4 linked regions of the Homo sapiens genome follow. The protein of the gene in region 1 interacts with the protein of each later gene in a biochemical or structural test. Each region holds a gene or a part of one and is shown in the gene's direction. Other genes may lie near its edges. The genes, in order: SYNJ1, CLTA, PACSIN2 and SNX9.

Region 1 (7,030 bases):
CCCATCTTAAGACTTCCCTCTTCTCTGTGAAGTGTTGAAGTGATCTGCAGGAGTGGGACAGCTCACAGTTTCAGGAGGGTTAAGGAGTTTTGCAGTAAAGCTCCTGAAGAGCAAAGGGTGAGGGGAAGAGCAAACCAGCAAATCATGGAATTGCCAGGCACTTTAGGCCAGAAGAGACTGAAAAGCATAATTTCAAATGTGACTGCAGTTGTCAGGACTGGGTGGTTTTCTTTAGCAGAGGCAGTCAGCAATCCAAGTGTTATCACAGAAAGATTAAACAGGGGAATCAGTGCAGGGATGGGGTTATGTCAAGCACGTGCAATGGAAGAAGAGTGAAGTAGGGTAATGTTTGAGATGAAGAACCATAGAATCTGAAGGTAGGTACAGAAGAAAGCAGAATCAGATGGAGGTAAAAGTTAGAGGGATCAAACCCTGGCTTCTGAAGAAATCAAAAGAGAAGGAGTAGCCAAGGGAGAGAACTGAAAAGCTGGGAGGCCAAAGTCAGAGTGAAGCTTTTGAGTTTATTATTTCAGAAGAGTGCAGTTCTGAGGGGTGAGGGTTAGGAGTGAAGGCGAATGTCCATAAGGATAGGACCAAGGCATTTTGCTATTGAACGAGTTGTCCACATGGACTTTGATGCCACGCAGAAAGATGGTGCGGGACCTGACTTACAGTCTTGCTCTCTGCTTAGTCCTCAGTGAGTGGGTTCAGGAAATGGAAGAATGGACGTTGGAGATGACTGTAGCAAGTGGGGGTAGAGGATGTTACATAAATTCCTGATGGCATAGCCTCAGAGCAGTAGGACTTTTTGTTCAGGGTTGGAAGACTAATGTTCTGGAATGGCAGTTAGGTTGCAAGGGTTACCTTGTGCCCACTTTCCTACCCAGAAGTAAGTGGAGATGAGGAGACCCTGGGGGAGAACCAGTGTTTACTTAATTAAAGCAAAGCGGGTCTTTGTGGGGTGAGGGTTGCAGGGAGGAGCCTTCTGGGGGAAGACTGTGTGGCTCCTGAGAGCTTGTTGACTCTGAGGCTGGACCTGGGTTAGGCAAGGGAGTGGGGCAGTTCCACAGAGCACAGTGGACAGGTTTGGAAGGAGAGCAGGAAACTTGAGTTGGCTTGCACTGGAGAAGCTGCTCTGGGGCATATTGAAAGCCCATTGGGTCACCCCAGCTCCAAGTGGTTGGTCACCTGACATCTTATTGCTCAGAGACAATAGATACCTTTACATCTTCTGAAACAAGCATTTCTACTAATTGTGGTTTTATACATGCCTTCATGCTTAATCCATGTGTGTTTGCAATGACATAATGTTCATATTTGTTTTGTGTATTTTAACTTTTTAAAACCTAAGGTGAAAAAAATCTCTGAGCAAGTTAAAATGGAGTTATCTCTGATCAAGCCTGCTTTTCCTTAGGTGATGTTGATGACTATAGTGCTGAAGTGGAGGAACTTCTTCCTCAGCATCTCCAGCCATCTTCAAGTTCCGGCCTTGGTACTTCCCCCAGCTCTTCACCCCGAACTAGTCCCTGCCAGTCACCTACAATATCAGAGGGTCCTGTACCTTCCCTTCCCATCAGACCAAGCCGAGCACCGTCAAGAACTCCTGGGCCTCCCAGTGCACAGAGTATGCATTTTATTTGAAAGTTTTGTATGGCTTCCTGTGGCCAATGTGCTTGATGTTGGAGAGTCATCGTTTAAGTTTCATACCTAGGTGATAAAGTGCACCCTGTTTTCTCCGGTACAGAATAGGAAAACTTGTAGATGATAAGCTCTCAATGGAAAGGAAACTTGCTATAACTGTCACTAGATGACAATTGTTCTTAATCTTTTTTCTATGTGGTTAGGTTTGTCTATGTCTTATAACTGATGATTTTCTATGGTATGAACCCGTTAACTATTTGAGCTTTTTCTTCTCTCTACTGGCCAGACTACAAAATGGCTTAACTCAAACAATACTTTGTGCATATCAATAGGGCCACTTAGTAAATTAGCTTTCAGCACCTGAGGCCTAGGTAAGAAGTCAGCACAGAGGTAGCATTATTGCTGCCATGGTACCAAAGGGCAGTTTAATAGTAGACTGCTTTTGTTATTCATACTGAAAATACATGCCCTTTCTTTACACCATTGTGCACATTTTATAGAACATTACACATATATATGAAGGACTGTTCCCTTCTGTCAACAGCTACTTAGAAGCTGATCTTCTTACCTCCTGTGCGCTTTTTAGGTTCTCCTATTGACGCGCAGCCAGCAACGCCGCTGCCGCAGAAAGACCCCGCCCAGCCCTTGGAGCCCAAGCGGCCGCCGCCGCCCCGCCCGGTCGCCCCTCCCACACGCCCGGCTCCCCCACAGAGACCTCCTCCGCCTTCAGGTGACAACCTTTTATTTCCATTTCTGCTAGATGTAAAATTCTTCACTCTATTTTAAAATGTTTTGCATGTTTTCCAATCTCTAGCTTCTGGATTTTACAGTTTTTTCTATCATTATTGCTATTTCTTAGCTTTTCTCTAAAGAACATGGTAGGCGCAACAGACAAGGTAGAGTGTTTGCAGAGTAGATTCCTCTAAGGTGTTTTCACAGCTGCCTTTAGCTGCCTTCTCACCAGCCAGCCAGAGAGGTTTATTTTGTTTTTGCTAATTTGATCTAGTTAGGCATGTAAACTGTTCTTAGGTAAAATTAGGTTTAATTTTTTTCAAAATCCTCATTTCTGGATGATTTATAAGCATAAAATAATTAAAATGTACTAATTTCTGTAAAAGTATAATAAAACTGGAGAGCATACGTATTAATGTACAATTGTATGTATTTGTTTAATGTTCTTTTAAATTAAATATAGTGCTGTTACTTCAATTATAAGCATATGCATTGAATAATAGTTTTTGTAGTACGTAGATAATATGTAATTCCTGCATGATACTTGATGTCATGGATACTATAGCAATCTTTGACATTTCACTTCTGTATTTAATGTCATTTCCTTTCTGCTGCCTATTTTCTTATGAACTATAAGGGGCTAGGAGTCCTGCACCCACTAGAAAGGAATTTGGAGGTAACCATTTACATTTGTTAGCATGTGTGAATCGTGGTTCATTAATGTTTTACACCTGAAAGACATTTTAGATTTGTTTGATAAAAGTCAAAATGAATGACATTCTAGTTTAAAACTAATCCACAAATAAAACTAATAAAGGCTTTCATTTCCCAGGTAGGCTGGGATTGTTCATCAGGCCTAATTTTTTTTTTAATAAATGTGGTCGATTCATTTACAAAGATTTAATACCCAAAAGTTATATTAATTTTAAAAGTCATTCAGGTACAGTAAATACAGAACATTTCCCAAGTATCTGATTAGTGATACATTTATTTTCTAGTGGAAAAGCTTTTGGATTAGCAAAGAACTGTATGATTTTCTTTTCCTTTCTTCATAAGGAAATTTTTATTCACAAAGGGTCACTTTTTGTTTGAAGTATAGTTTATTTGGTTTACATGAAAACTCACAGAGCTCAGTTGGAGTTATACATTTGACAAGTTTATTTAATCTAAATCTCAAGAAAAGATGAGATGAGTTTTCACAATTCCTCAGAAGAACTTTTACAAATCCAGTGTTACTAAGGCTCACTGTGCATGTGTAGCCTGGTCTGTTTCTATTGTAGCTTGCCTAGTGACATGGCTGAGCAATTCAGGTCTTACTACAGACTGACTTTGCCTGTGTGTAGATCTTAATGACTGCGTGTGATAAGAATAGCTAAATTATTTCAGCATTACAGCTTCTGCCGAATACAGCTAAGTGATCATTTCTCCATTGACCTACAGAAAACATTTAATTTTTCCCTTTTCAAGCTCCTGCTTTTATAGAAAACATTTAATTTTTCCCTTTTCAAGCTCCTGCTTTTATTTAAATTTCCATGATAATTTTTGCTTATCTTCTGCTTTAATTAGGAAAACATCCTGTAGAAAATAAATTTAAAATGAATCTGTCAAAAGTTAGGCAAGCCAGTGGATTACAGTGAAATCTGTCTTAATTTTAAAAATTGCTCCCCTTCATAATTCTTTTGTAAGTAGTGTTTGCAACATGTTTTTTCATCCTATAAACAATAATTCCTTTACGTCATTATAGTACATTAGAGTTTTTAAAATTAATGCATCAAAAACTAACTTCAAAAGACTTACGTAGTCTCATAGAAATTTATGATTTCTTTCCTTTTGACTATCAAATATCAGAGTTTTTACTTGCTCTGGATATAAGGAGTAAGATGATTTTTAAAGCAAAGGTCTTCATTAAACATATTTTTTAAATTCCCTACTGGTAGTAATTGCATACATAAAAAGAAAACTGTCATCCTGTTTCTACTCTTCTGTTTGAGTAAAGGGAGGATTCAGATTTGGGCCAAGCATCTAAAGTCACTTTGGTTTGTATTGATATCTTTGAAGAAATTTAAAGCAATAAAAGAGCCTTTTTGCAAAAGTGAGTTTACTATGGAAATTGTCTTGTGTGCCTGCCTTTCATTCTGTGCTGTGGGCCCTGAACAATATATAGTTTCTGTTCTTTCTCTAAAAAGGTATTGGAGCCCCTCCCAGTCCTGGGGTAGCTAGGAGAGAGATGGAAGGTAACAAGACTCTTGCATTATAGAAGTGGTTCTCTCATTTTATTTCTCAGTGTCAGCGCCCCACCTCCCCACCCCGCAGTGTTTGCAGGCATACTAAATCTTTTCTTGGTCCAGCTGTAAACTTCTCTTTCCCCTCCTTATGTATACCTTGTATTTTTTCCTCTCTTCATTCTATGTCACCTATAGTTTCTAATGGATATCCATTTAATTTCCCTGAGATCCTTAATGTTGTTTGTACTCTGTTTCATATATAGTTTATATATGCCCAGGTTGTGAAATTACTGTTTAAGAATGTCTTCAAAATTCTTTTCAGAATAAGTAAAATATTTAGAAATGTACTTTACTAATCTGAAGTTTTAAAAATTAATGATTATAATTAAACCCTATTAATTCAGATCCAAGAATATAGTATTTTGTAGTTGATTTCAGATAACATAGCTATTTTATAGATTAGCACTGAGCCAGATTTGTTTAAAAGACCTTTAAGACTAGAGGCCATTTGTTATGATTTTAGTTATTAAAAGGCTGATGTATTTCTTATAACAATTGTACTTGAATTTCTTTACAAAAAGGAGAGTTTATTTAAGATGCTGCCCTTGATAGTCACTCCTACTCCTTTTGGCTCCAAGAGTAATTTATTTCATTTTATCCTTCAGCTACCTTTCTAATGAGTTTGAACATATTTTTAACACTGTCTTCCATAAGGCAGATATTTGGTAATAACATATGCCTGTCTTCTGTCTTAATGATGGGATTTTGTTATAGAAATCCGAAAGATCTCATCATAAGATAACCTTATCCACAGTGACATCTACAGCGTGAAGCCCTAAAGTATTGCTACTAGGAGCCTCTTGTGTAATTTGACAAATGCAGTCCTGTCTGTTGCTCAGAAGCCACTTGTCTGCCAGACTCTAAGGGGCAGCAGTGCCGCATCTTGTGACCATTCACACAGCTGACTGTATGTTTTCAAGGTTCACGAGAGAGTTCTATGGGGAATGCCACCCTAAAAGTGGTCCCATGAGTGAGATATCAAACTAAAGTCACCACTTGTCTCCCATAAAGGTCTATCTAAATATTGTAATTTTTCTCTCTTTTGGAGTATTTCATTCAGGACTGATAATACCCTTCATCATTATACAAAGCAAAGTGCTTTGTTTTGTTACCATCTCATGCCCCCATTTCTGCTGGTAATGAAGCAGAACAGCAAGCTGATGTTATGCAATATTGCTTAATTGTTAACTTACAACTAATTTTTTTTTCCCTTCTTGCTTCAAAGCACCCAAAAGCCCTGGAACAACAAGGAAAGATAATATAGGTAAAAACACTTGAATGTAGCTATTCACCCTTAAAACTGGACCGTGAAATAGACACTTGGAATATAAGTACATGGTTTCTTGTTTATTTTTTTAAACTTAAATATATGATATGATGTCTTTGTTCCAGGACGCAGTCAGCCTTCACCTCAAGCAGGACTTGCAGGCCCAGGACCTGCTGGATACAGTACAGCCAGACCGGTAGGTAAAACCTCGCCTGGGGCCAAGGGGTCTCGGTTCTAAGTCCTGTTTACTACTAGTCAGTTTTGTTACCTTGGAGAAATCATGTGACCCTTCAAGGCCTCAATTTCCTCATCTCTAAAATGAGGGAATTGCACTTGATGATCTTCCGACTCTAACATTATTTTAACATACTCTTCAAAAATAACAAACTTCATTATTTGGATAAAAGTGATACACTTAAAACAATTATGGTCACTAAATAAATATCTTAAGAGTCTCAGTATATGAGGAAATGATGGATTTGGGCAGCTTTTTATCATTTTACCTGAGTAATTAATGAAGATATAAAGTAATCCTTCATTAAAAAGGATTTTAATTACATTTCAGAAAAAAAAATGATAAATTCAGTATAGTAAAACTGGTTCTAAAGGTTTTTTTCTCTTTTTGGTTTTTTTCTTGATCAGGTTCATCATATTCCGTAAAGGTATTAGAAATAGGAGAGTAGATGTTGTTACAGGATTTTTCCCTACCTGATGAATGTGTCTTTTCTGTATGTTTATATGTTCTCTTATACACATAGGTTTTTTATTATTTGAAAACTTTCTCTGGACTATAACAGGTAATCAAGAACAGAGAGAAAGAGCAAATAGAAACCAGTAATCAGTGACTTAGGCTAGTCCAGTAGGAGCTGGGACTACTGAGAGGCCCATATCTGAAGAGTAGGAAACTGAGAGCTATTACTGTACCTAGAAATTAAGATTATTAAGATTGTGAGAACTGAGGAAACCACTTCCTATGAAGATAGAAGCTTTTTGTCTTTTCTGTTGTAGCTGTCCACTTAACAATCTGAAGGTTCTTTTTTATATGTAATATTACTCTTCAAATATTTATCCTCCTTTTTTCAAAAAAAGGGAAATTTGCCATTCA
Region 2 (4,669 bases), on another chromosome or scaffold:
TCTGCCCACAAACAACTCTGTTTTCCTGCTGAGTCACTTTAAGTTATAATCAGCCTGCTCTTTTTGCTTTCTTTAAATTTCCACAAAACACCTCCTGTGTATAAAACAAAATGGGAAAGAAGGAAGGGCATGTGTGAGCTTAAAAATTAACTTAAAATTACTAGAATTTGCCTTCAAATAAGTATGTGAGGTTAGCTTAATGACCAGGCATGATTATCCTTGAAAAATGTCTTTCCCCTTGCCCACCCCAAATCGACTTGACAAAGGACAGGGTAAGACTCCATGAGGGAGGTTCCATGTCCAGCCACAGTGGAGAAGAGTGGGCTGGCAGAGCCCAGGGAGTCAGTCCAGGACAACAGAGTCAAAGCCAGCCTGGCCCCTGCTGTCAAAATTTATCCACCCAGTCTGCCCCCTCCTTCCTGTCTGAGAGCCCTGCCATGTTGAGAGTTAAGAAGGGATGAAGTTCTGGATTCTGGGCTGCACCTTATCAAAGCCAATTGAGTCTGGTGTAAAAATATTCAGAAACTGTACCCGCTTCTTGAGTAGAGAGAGAGCCATATTCAGGAACAACAGAAGCCAGGGCCAGGATCCTAGTCCAGTGTTCTTCCCACCAGACCACTCACCTCCAGCCGTTTTTTCCTGTAAGGTTGAGATTTTAAAATGACGATATGTGTTCCCAGGATTCTGGAAGTGTATCCCACCCAGACAGTGTGGGGAAGCAGTAGTTAGATAATCCAAGATAAAACTGGCTTTGGGTCCTAGCGCATCTGGTGTCTGGCAGCATTCCTGCCCAGTGCATTAACTGAAACAGGAAGGTGGCGTGGCTTTCTGGGCACATACAGCAGGGAAGAAGCATGACTATACAGTAGAAAGAGCCCTGGACTTAGGGCCAGGCTGCCTTGGTTGTGAGTCCTGAATGCTGCCACTGTGGTGTAGCTGAGCAAGTTGTTCATCTCTAAGCCTCAGTTACCTCATCTGTACAGTGGGGGTGAGAACAGTCAGGGTCATAGGTTGTTAACAGTTAAGGATTGAATCAACATAATGTATGTGAAAGGGCTTAGTCCATGATTGGGTGCTTAATAAATGCCCGTGTTGCTGGGGTGAGCCAAAGGGATGAAGTTGGCAGTGCTTGCTCTGTCGTGGAGCAGTCCCCACGTGGGAAGGCCAGCGGGAAACCAGGCCTGCTGAAGTCTCCAGCGCTGGAAGCCTCACGGGGGTTAGGAAGGAGCCTTGGGAGCAGCTCCTCAGAGCACAGTTGTACCTCAATTGTGGATTTTAGATGTTTCTGCTTCTCAATGTTCTCTCTTTTTTCCTGCCTGCTTGCCTGCCTTTTGGACCTCTTGCTGTCTAGGGTGGCAGATGAAGCTTTCTACAAACAACCCTTCGCTGACGTGATTGGTTATGTGTATGTTGCAAAACTAATTCCTTTTTCTACATCTGATTCTTTCTACTTTTGTTTAGAGTTAATGCTCCTTTTATGTCACAAGTTGCTTTGCTTTTTAAATTATTTCAAATTGGCACTTTGGGGGCTGCCTAAGAATTGATAAGCGGGGTATGATCTGTTGATGAATCTTCCAGATTTGTGACTCCCTGCATCCTCTGATGGCCATTTTTCATATTTGGGGTTTTGGAGGGAAGAAAGCTAACTCGCTTTCAAAATGTGTCATTTGCGATCTTATCTGGGAACGGTTTGAGGCTCGGGGGAACTCTGCTCTCTTGCTCTTGGCTGCCATCACTGCTGCCATGCCCTGTTGCCTGCCTGCCTCAGGTGGGAAGGAGGTTTCCCCACCTGGGAGCAGGTGGCAGTCCCAGGAGGTTAGGAGCCAGTGAGCAGCAGCACCTTGCATTGCCAAAATCAGAGCTGTGGGGCAGCATTTTCCATACTTGGTTCATTCAAACAATGTGGGGTCGTTTGCCTCTCCCTCAGGCAGAAGAGTCCAGAGCAGAGGGGGTTGTCTCCAGTGGGTGTCTATAATTGTTCCTCTGTGGTCTTGCATGTCAGAAATTGCTATTTAGTGGTCAGCTTCTGATGTCCTGTCTCCTAGCACAGGGAAGCCCCCAGCTTTGAGATCAGGATAGTCAAAGTGTCTTGATACGGGCCACTTGGGCTTCTCCCCCTGACCCCCCCAAAAGAAACCTGCATCTTCTCTGGAGAAGGTGTTTTTCTTATTCTTTTTTTTTTCTTTTTTTCTTTTTTCTTTTTTTTAAGGATTTCTTTTATCAAAGCAGTATTGCTGAAGAGTTGGAAACAGTTCTCATTGTCTCCTCCTTAAAAATTAGGGCTGGCTTTACATGAGAAGTAAGGGTGGAATGGAAGAGGAGAGGAACCTGTGGAAGGTGGGCGATGAGCTCAGGTCTGTAGAGCCTCTCAGGGCCTATGACCTTGAGATGTTCATCCCCTTAGAAGATAGAACTGGGTTTCCTGGGCCCCCAGATGCATTTGCAGTGAGACTTGTGAAATGCTGGACTTACAGGTGGTGTTTGATTTGATTTCTGCACATTCTCTCTGGAGTAGAAATGGAGACTGGAAAGGTCGAGTCTGGTTTTGCTGGGCAGCTGGGTGGCCAGCAAAGCCAGCTGCACGTCCCCAAGCACAGATAGAGTGGCAAGGGCATGTCCAGCTTACTGACCATCTGCATTGAGCTCATTCTCATTTTCTATATCTGACTTAAAGTTTCTCTCGTTTCTTTTCTTCTCTTCACCTTTAAGCACAAACATAAACCATCCTTGCTACAGCCTAGAACAGTTAAGTAAACCTTTCTCACTGCCCCTAACTGTGTGTGCCATGAAGTCGCAGTGTTGTAGTGGCTCTGGGCTTCAGCGGTGTTTGCCACGGCCATCCCTGTGATAGTGCCACCCCTCCGTCCCCACAGACCAGTCATCTCCATTGCTTTTGCTTTGCCCGTGATGCTTGTTGGAGTAGATGAATATAGTGTGTCTTAGCGCTGTCCTTTCCGGCTGTAGCTCCCACCAGTTAATTCCGAACTGGGGGTGGGCTGACCTTGATGTGAAAGAATGTTGGAGCAGCATCCTGCCAAAAAGCAACTCACGTTGGCTCTCCTGCCAGTGTGCCCTGAGTGGCCCCAAGGCACCTGGCTGGAGGGAAAATGGCAAACTTTTGGCTGAACTGGAGAATGTCCTAACAAACCCCCTTCCAGAATGGCTTTAGTCTCTAGTGCTTGCTAGCATGGGAGCTTTGTCTTGAATTCCTTTTGATCTGCCCCGTTTCTCTCCAGCCTTAGGAATAAATCTAGAGGCTATTGTGCAATGATCTGTGGGCTTTTTAGAAGTCTCTAAATTTCCTTGAAATTCAGTACAGCCCAGCATAAACTACTCAAGTTCTTGATCAGCCTGCTGCTTTGTTCTTATTAATAAAAGCAGTGTGTAGCTGGCTAAGGACTTGTTTTATTAATGCTCCACAGGAGCAGAGACAGACAGAGAGACATAGTGAGCCTTGAACCAAACACCTGTATTCCAACATTTTACACAGCGGTCTGGGCACCCTGTGCCTAGGAGAGCCAGCTACGTGTCTACCTGAGTCTGACCTGGGCCAGGGGCTGTTATCTTGGGAAAGCCAGAATGTCATTAAGAAAGGGACAAATAGGCAGTTGCTTGTGTAGCAAGGCAGCCACCAGGTTGCTCAAAGGGGGTTCTGCATAAACCAACATATTTTGTTGTTGCTTCCAGGGCAGCAGAAGAAGCCTTTGTAAATGACATTGACGAGTCGTCCCCAGGCACTGAGTGGGAACGGGTGGCCCGGCTGTGTGACTTTAACCCCAAGTCTAGCAAGCAGGCCAAAGATGTCTCCCGCATGCGCTCAGTCCTCATCTCCCTCAAGCAGGCCCCGCTGGTGCACTGAAGAGCCACCCTGTGGAAACACTACATCTGCAATATCTTAATCCTACTCAGTGAAGCTCTTCACAGTCATTGGATTAATTATGTTGAGTTCTTTTGGACCAAACCTTTTTGTCTTTAGAGTTGTTCATTGTTTGTGATTGCATGTTTCCTTCCTTCAACTGTGTTCTCCCTGGCATTCAGAGAGGAGGGAGAGGAGGAAGAGGAAGGGGAGGGAAGCTTCCCAAGAGTAGCCTCAACCTGTGCTTCTGTGCATTATTCTGAGAATAAATTTCTGTTTCAAACTGTATTATGTGAAGCTTCTTTATTGACCTCAAGATGTGTTGTAGTTTGGAGTGAGGTTGGAAGGAATTTCCAGGAGGAATTTCCTTGAAATTTCTAGGGCTGAGGAGGCACAGCCACTGGGCACACAGCCCTGCCTTGAACTAAGATAGCACCGGGATCTAGAGTGGGATCCTGTGGACATTTTCATTTGAGAAGGGAGTTTAGTGGCTGAAGGTTAACCCCCTCATTATCTACCTAAGACACAGCTGTGAATCCTCTCACCAACCTAGTCGTTTTCTCCCAGATGGGCTCTTGCTTGCCAGTGTCCCTCAGTTTAGGGTCTTGGATAGTATATTTCGGCAGGAGTCTGTGGGGCACGTAGACTCTAGTAAGACCTTGACTCCTTTGGATCCGGCCAGTAAGCCTGAGTCAGGACGGCATTCATGTGTGGCTAGCCCCATTACTGTTGAGTCCTGTAGCACATGTTGGGTTCTGTGCCATCCCAAGCACTTGGTTCATATTTCTCTTGTAAAATCCTTCATCTAGACCT
Region 3 (7,752 bases), on another chromosome or scaffold:
AAAAAAAAAAAAAAAGAATGGATTGATCCCAATTCAGGGCACCTGGGCAGTGCCCAGTGCCCACTTGGGAAGCCCTGTTTGTATGCTGCTCCATACCTACCTTTGTCTGGGAGCAGGCTCCAGCCGGGCATGGCAGGAGTGGAACATTGTACTTGCTGGTACAATTTGACGTGAGCAGACATGTGCAGCCAGAATGGAACAAAACAAAACAAAGCCAGGGAGATTGGGGTAATTGCCTCCTAATCAATGACACATTTACAAAGAATTCAGATCTTTACACGTACTTGGCAGGTGAGCATGTCATTCAGAGGTATGTTCAGAAATGTGTTCCTCCAGCCGCCATAGTTAGTGCTTTGATATGGCCAAAATATTAACAGTTGGTGCACAGCACGTGTTCTTAGGTTTGTTTTCCATTTATTTATTTATTTATTTATTTATTTATTTATTTATTTATTTTTGAGACAGGGTCCTGCTCTGTTGCCCAGGCTGGAGTGCAGTGGTGCAATCTTGGTTCACTGCAGCCTCAATCTCCTGGGCTCAAGTGATCCTCCCACCTCAGCCTCCTGAGTACCTGGGACTACAGGCCTGCACCACCACGTCTGTCTAATTTTTTTTTTTTTTTTTTTTTTTTTTGAGACCAGGATCTCATGATGTTGCCCAGACTGGTCTCCAACTCTTGGACTCAAGTGATGCTCCCGCCTTGGCCTCCCAAAGTACTGGGATTTTAGGCGTGAGCCACCACGCCCAGGCTTTTCTTTTAGACACGATTAAAAATTTAAAAAAGTGAATATACCCTGAAGCACTTTTACAAAATCAGGGGTCCTTGAACACACTGAACAATGACCTGTGCCAGGCCCCATGCTGAATATTGCAGAGCGAACTCACAAATCCTCACAGATTCTCTAAGCTAACAATCACTAGGTTTTGTGATTATCCCCGTTTTACAGTAGGGAAAACCAAGGGCTGGAGTAGTGAAGTCACTTGCCAGGGCCGCAGAGCTCCTTGCCGCTCGGCTGCCTTACTGCCTTGTTTCCCCTGGCTTCTCTTTGTGCCTGCAATGCAGCCAAGTGGAACCCTCCTCTCTTCCTGGACAGGAGGAGTTCTTGCCTCCTGATCTTTGCTCTCTGTAATCTTCCACTCATTTTGGCTCAGGTAAACAGCACTGTTTTCAATACCACTGCACCCTCTTCTGTTCTAAACTCTATGTCCTTGCCAGATCTTTCCAGGAACATCAGCAGGACCCAGGTCCACCCCGAGCCACCTTCCCTGCCTGGCACGTTCTAAATATTGGAATTATTGAGTGAGTGAATGTCTGTAACTGATTTTGATTTTTTTTCTTGAAAGACATGTATCACTGTACAATCCATAAATCACTGTACTTATCACACTGAAAATACACGTATCACTGTATTTTCAGCAATACAACTATATCTGGATGTTTTAAATTTTTTGAGAATATGATATTCTCTGTGCAAGTATGTTTTAGCCCAGACTGTCTGTTTATCCAGGCTGCTTAGTGGGAAATGGTTAATAAAGGACTAAACTAAAGCCGGTCAGTCTCAGTCCCAGGCACTCTGTGGCAATGGTCACATTTTGGGGGAAGGAAGGAGCAGCTGACAAGGCATGACCACATGTCCACCGTTCAGACACAGCATTCACAGCCGTGTGCCCGGAACAGCTCTCCATGCTTTGACTCCTTACCACAGCCCTGTTGCTCTTCCTAATCCCCATATCACGGAGGGGACACAGAGGTGCAGAGAGCTGCAGTGACTGGCCCAAGGCCCCTTGGCTGAAAAGGGGTGGAGGCAGGATTGGGCTCCAGGCCTGTTCAAATATGACTGAAGGAGGAGGCTGGATGGAATGTTGTGAAATGTTTGTGGGGAACAAAGTTGGGGTGCTCACATGTGGCAACGGGGAGCTATCTTTGGAAAAATACCCTGATAAGCTGCCAGGACAGAAGGTATAAGGCCCAAAGAGTTCAGGCAATGATGTCAAGCTGCTAGGTGCAAGACAAGGAAAGGAATTTTGTGTTTGTCCTGAGAAGGAGGAGGAGAGAAAAGAAGAGGGGGAGAGTGCAGAAAACCAAAGGCATGTGAAGTGGCCAGAGTGTGGCATGGGTCACGTGACCAGGTGGTGACTCCTGGGGCCAGGCAGCCAAAAAGGCTCACGAGGCATCCTGTCTTGTTGCTGGGCAGTGCCAGGCTTGATGCCTCTCTCCAGCTTCCAGTCTTCAGGAACCCCTGCTAGACTCAGCAGTGCTTGGAGTGCAGGGGGATTCGTGCAACTGGATAAGGGGATGATGGTGAGACCAGTGAGCATGCGGTGTGTGGAAGAGCAGGAGGCCTGATGACAGACGCTTGTTCAGAAACCTTGGGAGAGGCTGCGTACAGTGGCTCGTGCGTGTAATCCCAGCACTTTGGGAGGATGAGGCAGGAGGATTGCTTGAGCCCAGGAGTTCAAGACGAGCCTGGGCAACATGGCGAGATTCTGTCTCTACAAAGATTTTAAAAAATAATTAACTGGGCATGGTGGTGCGCACCAGTGGTCGCAGCTACTTGGGAGGCTGAGGCAGGAGGATGGCTTGAGCCTAGGAGGTCAAGGCTGCAGTGAGCCATCATTGTGCCACTGCATTCCAGCCTGGGCATCAGAGTGAGACCCTGTCTCAAACAAACCAAAACAAAAACCCCCAAAAATTTGGGAGAGGCTCTGTATTTCTTTTTTTTTTTGAGGCGGAGTCTCACTCTGTTGCCCGGGCTGGAGTGCAGTGGCGCGATATCAGCTCACTGCAAGCTCCGCCTCCCGGGTTCACGCCATTCTCCTGCCTCAGCCTCCCGAGTAGCTGGGACCACAGGCGACCGCCACCACGCCTGGCTAATTTTTTGTATTTTTAGTAGAGACAGGGTTTCACCATGTTAGCCAGGATGGTCTTGATCTCCTGACCTCGTGATCCGCCCGTCTCGGCCTCCCAAAGTGCTAGGATTACAGGCGTGAGCCACAGCGCCCGACAAGGCTCTATATTTTTATAGGGCATGGAATTGCGATGTAAGCGGAACTTACCCAGATATGAAAGTGCTGAGAGCTGATGGCTGAGTTCTATCTATACAAATGGTCCACAGGTATTGTGGGTGGCAAAGAGGTCCCTGTTGGCTCAGTCCTGGAGAATGAGGAGAGACTTCTTGGCAGTGGTTTGTCCTGGCACTGTGTGTTGGTTTTTTTTTTTTTTTTTTGAGATGGAGTCTCGCACTGTCGCCAGGGCTGGAGTACAGTGGCGTGATCTTGGCTCACTGCAACCTCCGCCTCCCAGGTTCAAGTGATTCTCCTGCCTCAGACTCCCAAGTAGCTGGGATTACAGGTGCATGCCACCACACCCAGCTAATTTTTTGTATTTTTAGCAGAGACAGGCTTTCACTGTGTTGGCCAGGCTGGTCTCAAACTCCTGACCTTGTGATCTGCCCGCCTCGGCCTCCCAGAGTACTGGGATTCCAGGCGTGAGCCACCGTGCCTAGCCGGTTCTTTTGTTTCTTTCTCAATTATTGTCATAAGGACAATGCCACAGAGCAGTCTAGAAAGTAAACAACCACTAGATTTCTTTGTGGACTCTTTTCTCATACCTATCTATATGTAGCAGCAATTCTACAGTTTCTACCATTTTGTATCTAGCTTTTTCTTTTATTATTATTTTCTTTTATTTTACTTTTTAGAGAACTGGGTCTTGCTATGTGGCCCAGGTTGGCCTCAAACTCCTGGGCTGAAGCGATTCTCCTGCCTCGGCGTCCCAAGAAGCTGGGATTCCAGGTGCATGTCACCATGCCTGGCTCTATCTGGCTTTTTCTTTTAACGTTTTAGTTTAAGCATTTTCCCATAGTGCTACACAGTCATCATTATTATTCTCAAGGGTTGGGCTGACCTGGGTTTCTAATCCTGGCTCTGCCATTTACTCTCTTTACTCCACATCACCCCCAGCAAGTTACCTGGCTCACCCCTCACCTGGGGTTCCTCTCACCATCCTCTCCACCTGGATGACATGAAGCAGTGCTTGGACAGCGCGTAGGACAGTGCTCAGGAAGTGCTCTCCATTTTCCTTCAAGAGTATTTCCCTCTGCAGAACGGGGCTAATACCCTATCATGCAAGGTGATTGTGAGAATTGGAAAGAATGCGTGTGCATTGCCTGGTGCCTTGCCATCCAAATATATTTTATTAGAGAGAGCAGCAACATACGCCCCCCCAACCCCCCGTTTAAACTAAGCGGGTCCACGTGGAATGACGCTTTTGGCGCAAGTCGGAGGAGCTCCTAACGACATTAGCTTCTTTGAGTCCCTTGGGAGAGGAAACTTTCTGAAAGACTGTAGGATTACCTTCCCTGAACTTCCGGTCAGGTGCGGTGCTGCCCTGCCGCGCCCTCTTACCCCTGGATGCCGACGAAACCGCAAAACTCCAGCCCCGGGAAGCGCGTCTCAAGGACCACCACCAGCGAGCGGCTTTGGGAGAGTAATCTGCGCCACCCTCGCAGCCCATTAAATAGGCACTCCCCGTTTGATTGACAGGAGAAGTCACCAATGCGCGTCCTGGGGCTTTCCCTCGTCCTCACGCGGGGTGAGCCGCCTCTCTACTCATCTGGCCCAATCGGGGGCGCCGGGGAGGCTGTGGGGCGGGGCTCGGTGTCCGGTAGCCAATGGACAGAGCCCAGCGGGAGCGGCGGGGGCGGTGCGGTCGCGGCTGGCGGCAGAAGCGGCCGCAGGGGTCTGGGCAGGGCTGGGCAGTGCTGCCGGAGCAAAAGCGGTAGCGGGAGCCCGGCCGGAGCTGGGTCTGGAGACGCCGTGGCAGCCTGAACGGAGTGTGCGACGGATTGGGAGGTGAGTGGCCGCCGAGGTCAGGGGTCGCCGCGACGGTTGGGGCGCCGCGGGCGGGACGCGGGGGCGCTGGTCCGCGGCCGGGCCCGCGCCCCGTCAGGGCCGCCGCGCCGAGCTCCGCGCCCTGAGGGAAGCGGGTCGGGCCGCGCGGAACTTCCTGTCTCTGTGGGAGGGGGCGAGTGCTCGGGGCCCCGGGGGGCGCCTGGAGAAGACATCTTGGGGAGGACGAGGGCGAGTGGGGTCGGCTCGGGGAAGGGGCGGGGGCCCATGGGGGCGGCGCTGTGGGAGCGGGGCAGTTTTCCGGGGTCCGGGGCCTGCTGGAGAGGGAAGTGCAGGAGCAGGGCCGTCGGGGGTTAAGAGCTGCTAATGAGTGGGGGAGGTGTAGACAGCTGCAGAAGGGGGAGCTGGGGCGACTTTTGGAGGGACGCGATTTAGGAGAAAGCTGGGAATCCGAGACGTGCAGAGGTTAGGCGAGGGTGCCGGAGCAACGCTGGAGGGAAGGCGTGGCTGGGACGCGCCGGTGAGAGGGCAGGGCTTAGTCCTGGGGTGGCCTGGGGGGCGACGCAGGACACACGCGGGTGCGCTGATTTCGGGCGCTTTGATGAGCGGCCTCCATTTCCTTCCTTCCCACCCTCCGTGTCCCGGGGGGGGGGGGGTGGTGTGTGTGTGTCTGTGTGTGTGTGTGTGTGTGTGTGTGTGTGTAGGGCGGGGGGAGCAAAGCCCTTACCGCAGCACGTCCTAGGGCTGGGGCCAAGCAGGAGAGGCCGGGGAGGTTTGCCCTTGTGACCCTCCTCAGAGTTTCCCCAGACTCACTGAATCAGAAATCCGAACTCCTTACTCCTCTAGGGCTTTCAAGCCTGGCCAGGCATCCTGAGAGGTCCGCAATTGGAGAGGTAGTGATTGCTGCTGCTGTTGAATTTCATTGATTCATTGGGTTTCGGCTCCATCAGAGAAGGTCGATTTTCTTTTCAGAAGGAGTTGGTTGGTCAGGGGAGCAAGCTGTGCTATTGCTTTGGGGCCCACACGGCTGCAGCCTTTGACGTATAACAGGACCTGGGGATGCCACTCTTGGCTTGGGTGCCTGAGGGAAGGTGGCCTTTGGCTGGGTGTGTGCACCATTCCTGGATCCTGTCTTCTCTTTTTCCCTCCGCCTGTCCGGTGTTTTTGTGGTTAAGGGGGTAGGCTGCTCAGAGTCTCCAGGGCTACTTGGTACACTGTTTACCAAATACTGCCTGGCTGTCTTGATGAAAATCAGGAAACCAGCTCAAAGAGTTTGAACCTCAGCTGCAGATGGTGAGCTCACACCTTCTTCCTTCCCTCCTTTTCGGTGCCTTCCTCTGCGGTTATTCCCGTGTGCTGAAGTTCTGTTTTAACCCTCCTGGGATTGCCAGGTTGGAGCCCAGGGCAAGGGAACCGACCAGGCAGGCAGTGTTGAATGCCAGCCCTCCTGTTCTTGCCCAAGATGTTGTCGTTCCACTTGATTCATGAGCCTGCCTGCATGCAGCCTCCTCATGGAGACATTGAAGCTGTGCCAGTGCAACTTGGATCTCTCTTGATTCACCTGGAAAACTTTCACTTGTGTGGACTTAAACTTAATTCTAGAGTTTGGTAGCCTCTTTGGTGAGGTTATGCTGGTTGAGATATGAGGCCACTACATCAAAAACATTGGTGTGTTTTTCTTTTGACAATAGACTTAAAGCTTTAAAGAAAGTGGCCATTAGGCTGGTGATATTTATTACTTGGGAAAGTAACATAACACAGAGAAGTAGATGGGTGATTAGGTCTGCACTCTTTATCCACTTTTTGGGAGAAGAATAACAACTCATTTGAATGGAAATGGTATCCTTAGCTCGTGCTGCTTTGGGACTTGGAACTTTATCACTTTTAATCTCAAATGTATATGAAGTTGTGATGTGATATTTAAATAATCTAGGCTGGGCGGGGTGGCTCACGCCTGGGATCCCAGCACTTGGGAAGGCCGAGGCGGGCAGATCACCTGAGGTCAGAACTTAGAGACCAGCCTGGCTAACATGGTGAAACCCCGTCTCTACTAAAGATACAAAAATTAAGGCCGGGCGTGGTGGCTCACGCCTGTAATCTCCAGCACTTTGGGAGGCAGAGGCGGGCGGATCACCAGAGGTCGGGAGTTCGAGACCAGCTTGACCAACATGGAGAAACCCCATGTCTACTAAAAATACAAAATTAGCTGGGTGTGGTGGTGCTCATACCTGTAATCCCAGCTACTTGGGAGGCTGAGGAAGGAGAATTGCTTGAACCCAGGAGGCGGAGGTTGCGGTGAGCCAAGATCCGGCCGTTGCACTCCAGCCTAGGCAACAAGAGCAAAACTCCTGTTTCAAAAAAAAAAAAAAATTAGTCTGGCGTAGTGGTGCACACGTGTAATCTCAGCCTCAGCTACTTGGGAGGCTGTGGCATGATAATTGCTTGAACCTGGGAGATGGAAGTTGCAGTGCACTGAGATCACACCACTGCACTCTAGCCTGGGTGACAGAGTGAGACTCTGTTTAAAAATAAATAAATCTAAAAGTATGCATATATTTAAAAAAAATTCTGGATTTCCACCAACATAGCATTCTGCAGGGAGATAACATGAACTTTTCCCTAATCCTGGATACCCATCCACATCTCTGATGGCCAGGCATTTCTGGAGTGGGAGCAGAGGGGCATTTGTCCTTGCTTTTTTTTTTTTTTTTTTTTTGAGAGAGAGTCTCTGCCCAGGTTCAAATGATTCCTCTGCCTCAGCCTCCTCAGTAGTTGGGATTACAGGCGCCTGCCACCTTGCCTGGCTAGTTTTTGTATGTTTGTATGTATGTATGTATGTATGTATGTATGTATGTATGTATGTATGTATTTATTTATTTTGAGACAGAGTCTCGCTCTGTC
Region 4 (7,030 bases), on another chromosome or scaffold:
AATTGCATATACTTTTATTGTTTGAATTTTTTTTATTATACATGTATTCCATTTCAAATTAAAAAGCCTACTTAAAAATACAACAGATCGCTATAAAGCAGTTAGAAATAGGTCCTCATGTTGAGTGGGAAAAAGAAAACTTGCAAAGAGATACATACAGTATGACATCCTTTAGGTCAATTTTAAAAATATAAAGCAGTTGTTTGTGAATGTGTACATGTGCAGCTGAAGTATGAAAACACACATAGGAATGGATACAGGTTCAGAAAAGTAGTGGTTACTTCTGGAGAGAAAGAAAGAGAGGGCTGTAGCTGCATCTAATAGTTTCTTTGTTGCTGTTTTCAAAGTTCCTAAGCAAATACGGTAAAATGTGTTCACATCAGTAAAATTAGATTGATGCTACCTTTTGTGCTTTCCTACATGTTTGGAAATTAAAATATTATGTATGTAAAATTGTTTTGAATACATTTCTATTAATTGTTTTTAGTACTCCTGTTGTATTCAATTGTGTCAGTTCATTATTGAATTGAGTCATGGTTTCCAAAAGTCACAAAAATTCTCCTTCTTTTTACCCCTCTCAATAGGTTGGCAGTGGCAATGACCCCTGGTCAGCCTGGAGTGCCTCCAAATCTGGGAACTGGGAAAGCTCAGAAGGCTGGGGGGCCCAGCCAGAGGGGGCTGGAGCCCAAAGAAACACAAACACTCCCAACAACTGGGACACTGCCTTCGGCCACCCCCAGGCCTACCAAGGACCAGGTGAGGAGAGGGGTGCAAGGTCCCACCCTGCCCGCCCATGGCTGAGTGGGAGAGACAGGGAAGACCGAACTGTTTTTGCTGTTCCCACACTCAGCACAACACAGAACAGTTTTGTGACCACAGCATGGGAAGGGAGGATTGCCCCACCCACCAAGCAGCTGTGCAGCAGACACCAGCTGAGTGTCCTACAGTCATGACACTGTCTACCTGGAGTCAGATCAAGGGGGTTCCCACCACTCCCACCTTGGGTTCAATTAATCTGCTGGAGCGGCTCACAGAACTCAGGGAAACACTTTACTTACTACTGTCAGTTTATTACAAAGCTCAATTTACAGGATGCAAATAAAGAGCCAGATGAAGAGATGCATAGGGCGAGGCATGGGGAAGGGACGCAGAGCTTCCATGCCCCCCTGCCCCAGGTGCCCCTACATGTTCAGCACCCCAGAATCTCTTTTCCTGTAGCTCAAGGATTTTTACGGCGGTTTCATCACATAGGCATGATCGATTATTGTTATTATTATTCTTTGAGACAGAGTTTTGCTCTCGTTGCCCAGGCTGGAGTGCAGTGGCACAATCTCGGCTCACTGCAACCTCCGCCTCCCAGGTTCAAGTGATTCTCTCACCTCAGCCTCCTGAGTAGCTGGAATTACAGGAGCCCACCGCCCACCGCCACACCCGGCTGATTTTTTGTATTTTTATTAGAGGCAAGGTTTCACCATGTTGGCCAGGCTGGTCTCAAACTCCTGACCTCAGGTGATCCACCTGCCTCAGCCTCCCAAAGTGCTGGGATTACAGGTGTGAGCCACCATGCCTGGCCGGCATGATTGATTATTAACTCAACCTCTGGCCCCACTTTTCTTTCCAGAGAATGGGAGGTGGAGCTGGAAGTTCCAAGCTTCTAATCCTGGCTTGGTCCTTCTGTTGACCAGCCCCCATCCCACCAGGAGTCACCTCATTTGAACAAAAGATGCTCCTACCACCCGGGAAATTCCAAGGGTTAGGAGATCTGTGTCAGGAGCCAGGGTCAGAGACCAAATATCAGAACAAAAGATACACCTTGCACACCTAACATTCAGGAAGTTACAAGAGTTTTAGGAGCTCTGTGCCGGGAACTAGGGACGCAGACCAGATGGCTATTTCTTACCTCACAATACCACTCTGGGTCATTGAGTTGAAAATAGATTTTATTCAAAAGAACTGCTTGCAGTTGCCCTTATTCACTAGTAGCAAACCTGGATTCAATTGTAGATGGTCATTAACTCTAACTTTAGTTCAGTCTTACTTATCTGTGTGAAGTCACAGATTCAAACGCTGGGTTGGTAAAGTAAAAGCAGAATGGGCGGTGGAGGCTGCAGAAGGCTGAGGGCCCCTGCTGTCGCCCGTGGATCACTGCATTTGCAGGGAAGCTGAGCCCACGTTCTGATCTCCACATCTTCAGAGAGATGAGAAGTCTTGGTTATTTGTCACCTTCTGATTTTAACATCTCAGCAGCTAACACGTTTGTTTTAAAATCTTGAGCCAGAAACGTGTATGTGGATGGGATGTGGCTCATCCTGCTGGTTTAAGACCTCTGCATTCACTGTTTTAACTTCCTGTTTGACTAGGCTATGAATAGAAATACTGAGGCAGAAGAGAAATGTGTGGAATGGGAAATAATTTGGGAATTAAGGGTATTTATGTCTGATCTGAAATTAAATAAGAAGGTAGTCTCCCATTATTTTTTAACAATTCCTGAACCCTGTCTCCTCTGTAAGCACATTGGGCCAAGAATTGAATGTCTGTTCTAAACAGCAAGGACCTCACTTGTAAGCCCAAAGCAGGGTGCAGGTCCCGGCTGAAGGCTGGCAGTCATAGACAGGAGCTGCCTGTCAGCAGGACCAGGGGTGTGGGCTGGGTAGAAGCGTTGGGAGACTCCTGGGGTCTGGCTCTCTGGTCACTTGGCCCACATCCTTCTCATAGTTTGTTCTTCTCCCATTTGGCATTTGTCTCTCGGCTTCTCCATAATGGCACTCTTAGGACCTGACACTAAAGGACACTCAGGCCGTTAGAGTAGGGGAGGAAGGAGAAGGAGGAGAGCCCACAGGGGAGGAAGGAGAAGGAGGAGAGCCCACAGGGGAGGAAGGAGAAGGAGGAGAGCCCACAGCACCTTATCTGACACGGGGATTATTGTCAGAATAGTAGCTACTGATGCTGCTTAATTACTTCTTCACTCTCATCTTTTTCTCCCACACCCCAACTCGGTCTTTTTAATGTCCCCCTCGTTGCCCTTCTCTCCCCTTTATTGTTAGTGTTAAACAGCTGCTTTTCAAAGTTCTGTCGTCCCTTTCGTCCTCCCCAAGCCTCTAGAATTAAAGGGTATTCTGCTTATTTGTAAATGTATAAGACTAGATTTATCAGTGTCTAGGCCTCTAGAAGTCTTTTCTACTGTGTACCACTTAACATTCTTACAGTCTGCATTTATCTGAAGTGATGTGGACTGACAGCCCTTTAAAAAAATTATCTATATTTTCACGCCTGTAATCCCAGCAGTTTGGGAGGCCGAGGCAGGCGGATCACAAGGTCAGGAGATCAAGGCCATCCTGGCTAACACGGTGAAACCCCATCTCTACTAAAAATAGAAAAAAAATTAGCCGGGTGTGGTGGCAGGCGCCTGTAGTCCCAGCTACTCGGGAAGCTGAGGCAGGAGAATGGCCTGAACCCAGGAGGCGGAGCTTGCAGGGAGCCAAGATTGCGCCACTGCACTCCAGCCTGGCCAACAAAGCGAGGCTCCGTCTCAAAAAAAAAATTATCTATATTTGAGGTATACAGCGTGATGTTGTAATATACATGTATATACTGAAATCATTACTACAGCCAAGCGCTTAACATATCCCTCACCTCACATGATTACCTAAGTGTGTGTGTGTGCGCGTGTATATGTGCAAGTGCGTGCCTGTGGGTGTGTGTGTGGTAAGAGCACCTAAAATCTCCCTCAGCAGGTTTCCCAAATATAATGCAATATCATTAACTGTAGTCCTCATGCTGTACATGAGATCTCTAGACTTATCCTACATGACTGCAACTTTGTACCTTTGACCTGCATCTCCCTAGTTCCCCGTCTCCCTGCCCCTGGTAACCACCTTTCTACTTTCTGCTTCTATAAGTTTTTTAGATTTTTTTAAAGACCTGTTAAAAGTTCCACATGTAAATAAGATCCATGTGGTATTTTTCTTTGTGTGTGATGTTGAGTGCATTTTCATATACCTCTTGGCCATTTTTTGGTCTTCTTTGGAAAAATGTCAATTTGGGTCCTTTGTCCATTTTTTAATTGAGCTTTTTTTATTTGCTATTGAATTGTGCGAGTTCATTATATGTTTTGAATATTAACAGGTTATCAGATACATGGCTCGCAAATATTTTCTCCCAGCCTATTGCGGGATCTGGCCAGCAGCCCGCAATGCAACGGGGTTCTCTTTGTGTTCCCAGGCGGATCGGCCCGTTGAGAAATAATAGACACACACAAGATAGCGAAAGCTGGGTCCGGGGGGGTCACTGCCTTCTGGTCCTGCAGTGCCAACAATGCACTGGATATACCAGCATTTATTATTAAGTTTAGTGAGGGCGGGGGTAGGTTAGTGAGGGATTTAGGGTCATTTGATTATGAGGTGAGATGGTCACATGGGGATGAAGTAATTCTTTAACATAACATCTGTATGCAGAAGTACAGTATACAGAGATAAGAATTTACAATATAGTGTATGCATCAGTAATTTCTGACAGAGCCTTAAAACAGAAACACAGTCTTTCCATAACCTATGATTAGCAAGATATTAATCAGCAGTAACAGTTGCAGCAAAAGCTGGTTACAAACAATCCGTAGAAACAGGACGTGAAGCTAGACAACCTGTTAGACCAGAAATTCTCAGAAGGGAGTATGCCTTAACCCTAAAGAGGCCCAGAAGAGCCCTGGCAAGATGAGGGCGTTTATAGCCCTATCTTATCCATATGGACGGTGCCCCCATGTGTCTGTTTATAGGCTCTTTACAAGGGTCACTTTCCATTCCCAGAGCTATGAATATCTGCTTTTCTGGGATAGGAATCTTGGTGATGTGAAACCTCCCTGACTGCACATCCATTCATAGGCTCTCTGCAGGGGGAAGCACATCACATGCTGTTGGCTCATTCTGGCAGTCCCACCTGGCACTGTCTTTACACAATCCTGCATGCAATTTTGTATTTACAATAATCAGGAGCATTTCATCTTTTATTCCATAGCAATAGTTTCAGGGGGTCTCCCTACACCAGCCCATAGGCTACCTTTTCATTTTGATTGTTTCCTTTGCTGTTCAGAAGCTTTTTAGTTCCATGTAGTCCCGCCTGTTATTTTTGACTTTGTTCCCTGTGCTTTTGGTGTAATACTCAAAAAAACATTTGCCAAGGCCAGCGCCAAGGAGCTTTTCCCCTGTGTTTCCTTCTAGGAGTTGTGTGGTTTCAGGTCTTCCATTTAGGTCTGTAATCTATTTTAAGTTGATTTTTGTGTGTGGTGTAAGACAAGGTCCAGTTTTATTCTTTTGCATGTAGATACCTGGTTTTCCCAGCACGACTTACTAAAGAGACTGCCCTTTCTCCACTGTGTCATCTCGGTGCCCGTGTCAAAAATTTAAAAGTAATCTGATAGCCCTCTTTAAGTTGCTTCTGATTTGTCTTTTGCACTAAAAGAATCTGTAATTCAAGGCTTAAAATTGACTACACAGCCTTTACTCTTAACATCCATATTATACTCCTATACTATACCCTTTTCTCCATCAAAAAAAAATTGATTTGCCCAGTAGGTAGTTACTGTCAGAAAATTAAGTAATTTCATTTTTATTTTGGTCTTTTTTTTTTTTTTAACTGATGATCTTCCATTTTCACCTCTAGCAACTGGTGATGATGATGACTGGGATGAAGACTGGGATGGGCCCAAATCCTCTTCCTACTTTAAGGATTCAGAGTCAGCTGATGCAGGCGGCGCTCAGCGAGGAAACAGTCGTGCTAGTTCCTCATCCATGAAAATTCCCCTTAACAAGTAAGTTTAAAGGGGAGCCAGGGAACCAGGGCCGTGGTAGAAGTATACATTAATACAAAGTATATACCCTACCAAGAGGCAGCTGGCCTTTTCCCTTTCCAGTGATCTCCTAAGTTTTGGATATGATTCAGTTATTTTTATTTGGATCTTAACTGAGAAGCTTACTTAAAAAAAAAAAAGGATTTTTGATTTACAAGGTTAATAAGTGAAATATTTATTTTATTTAATGATTTCCCAAACTGTTTTCATTACTTCTAGCTTTATCAATTTATGACATATTAAGGTTTCATTGCTAATGTCACAGGAAAGCTAAAAAGAATAATAATAACAACTCTCTTTTAAATGTTTTACTGTTTTGTTAATCACTTGCCATGTGCCAGGCATTGTGCAGAGAGGTTTGTATCATTCGCATGTAGCCCTCATATCCCTTTGTGGTACATAAAACCCCTGTTTTACTGCAGGCAAACTGATGCCCAGAGAGACGCATCGAGTGTTCCAGTCAGGAAGCCAGGCCCTCAGGCGCCAAAGCACGTGTTTCAGCTCCTGTGCCTAAAAACGTGGTCCGGAGCTTTGTGTTAGCTTAGGTTTCTCTTAGATTTAAAACAAAAAAAAAAGTGTTGTGTTTTATTTTTTTGTTTTGAGACAGGCGTCTCGCTCTGTCACCCAGGCTGAAGTGCAGTGGTGCGATCTTGGTTCACTGCAACCCCAACGTCCCGGGTTCAAGCAATTCTCGTGCCTCAGCCACCTGAGTAGCTGGGATTACAAACATGTGCCACCGCGCCCAGCTAATTTTTGTATTTTTAGTAGAGACGAGGTTTTACCACGTTGGCCAGGCTGGTCTCAAGCTCCTGGTCTCAAGTGATCCGCCCGCCTCTACCTCCCAAAGTGCTGGGATTACAGGCTTGAGCCACCACACCTAGCCAAAAAAAAAAAGTTTTTAACAGTACTTGTAGATACCCTACTTAACAGGAAAGCATGTGGGCACCAGTGACCACTGTAGGATTCTTTGGAGAGACCTAAATAAGGCTGTAGTCTATGCCAGTGTAGCTTGAAGGAGATATATTAGTAATTTATGACTTCCATCAGAATTTTCAAGTACTCCTTCCAGCAGTTATGTTTAGTTTATTTTTTGAAATTACTAATACTTTTTCCCAATATTCCAATTCCATGATTCAAGGCAGATATCAAAGAATGTTAATCTGTGTCTGGAAAAATTAAAAACATAAC

The links.
Region 2: the proteins of SYNJ1 (region 1) and CLTA form a complex in vitro, tested with the Homo sapiens proteins (one study listed by BioGRID).
Region 3: the proteins of SYNJ1 (region 1) and PACSIN2 form a complex in vitro, tested with the Homo sapiens proteins (one study listed by BioGRID).
Region 4: the proteins of SYNJ1 (region 1) and SNX9 interact in a test that uses a peptide from one of them, tested with the Homo sapiens proteins (one study listed by IntAct).

Annotation. Positions count from the first base shown.
Region 1 is NC_000021.9:32,640,987-32,648,016, reverse strand, and holds part of SYNJ1 (synaptojanin-1), read left to right. Parts: intron 1-1,414; coding exon 1,415-1,624; intron 1,625-2,227; coding exon 2,228-2,371; intron 2,372-3,010; coding exon 3,011-3,049; intron 3,050-4,559; coding exon 4,560-4,607; intron 4,608-5,883; coding exon 5,884-5,922; intron 5,923-6,050; coding exon 6,051-6,121; intron 6,122-7,030. UniProt on the Homo sapiens protein: Phosphatase that acts on various phosphoinositides, including phosphatidylinositol 4-phosphate, phosphatidylinositol (4,5)-bisphosphate and phosphatidylinositol (3,4,5)-trisphosphate. Has a role in clathrin-mediated endocytosis.
Region 2 is NC_000009.12:36,207,916-36,212,584, forward strand, and holds the end of CLTA (clathrin light chain A), read left to right. Parts: exon of another isoform or gene 1-639; intron 640-1,351; coding exon of another isoform or gene 1,352-1,405; intron 1,406-2,709; coding exon of another isoform or gene 2,710-2,745; intron 2,746-3,687; coding exon 3,688-3,859; 3' UTR 3,860-4,144; downstream 4,145-4,669. UniProt on the Homo sapiens protein: Clathrin is the major protein of the polyhedral coat of coated pits and vesicles.
Region 3 is NC_000022.11:43,012,123-43,019,874, reverse strand, and holds the start of PACSIN2 (protein kinase C and casein kinase substrate in neurons protein 2), read left to right. Parts: upstream 1-4,725; 5' UTR 4,726-4,854; intron 4,855-7,752.
Region 4 is NC_000006.12:157,896,243-157,903,272, forward strand, and holds part of SNX9 (sorting nexin-9), read left to right. Parts: intron 1-584; coding exon 585-756; intron 757-5,655; coding exon 5,656-5,803; intron 5,804-7,030. UniProt on the Homo sapiens protein: Involved in endocytosis and intracellular vesicle trafficking, both during interphase and at the end of mitosis. Required for efficient progress through mitosis and cytokinesis. Required for normal formation of the cleavage furrow at the end of mitosis.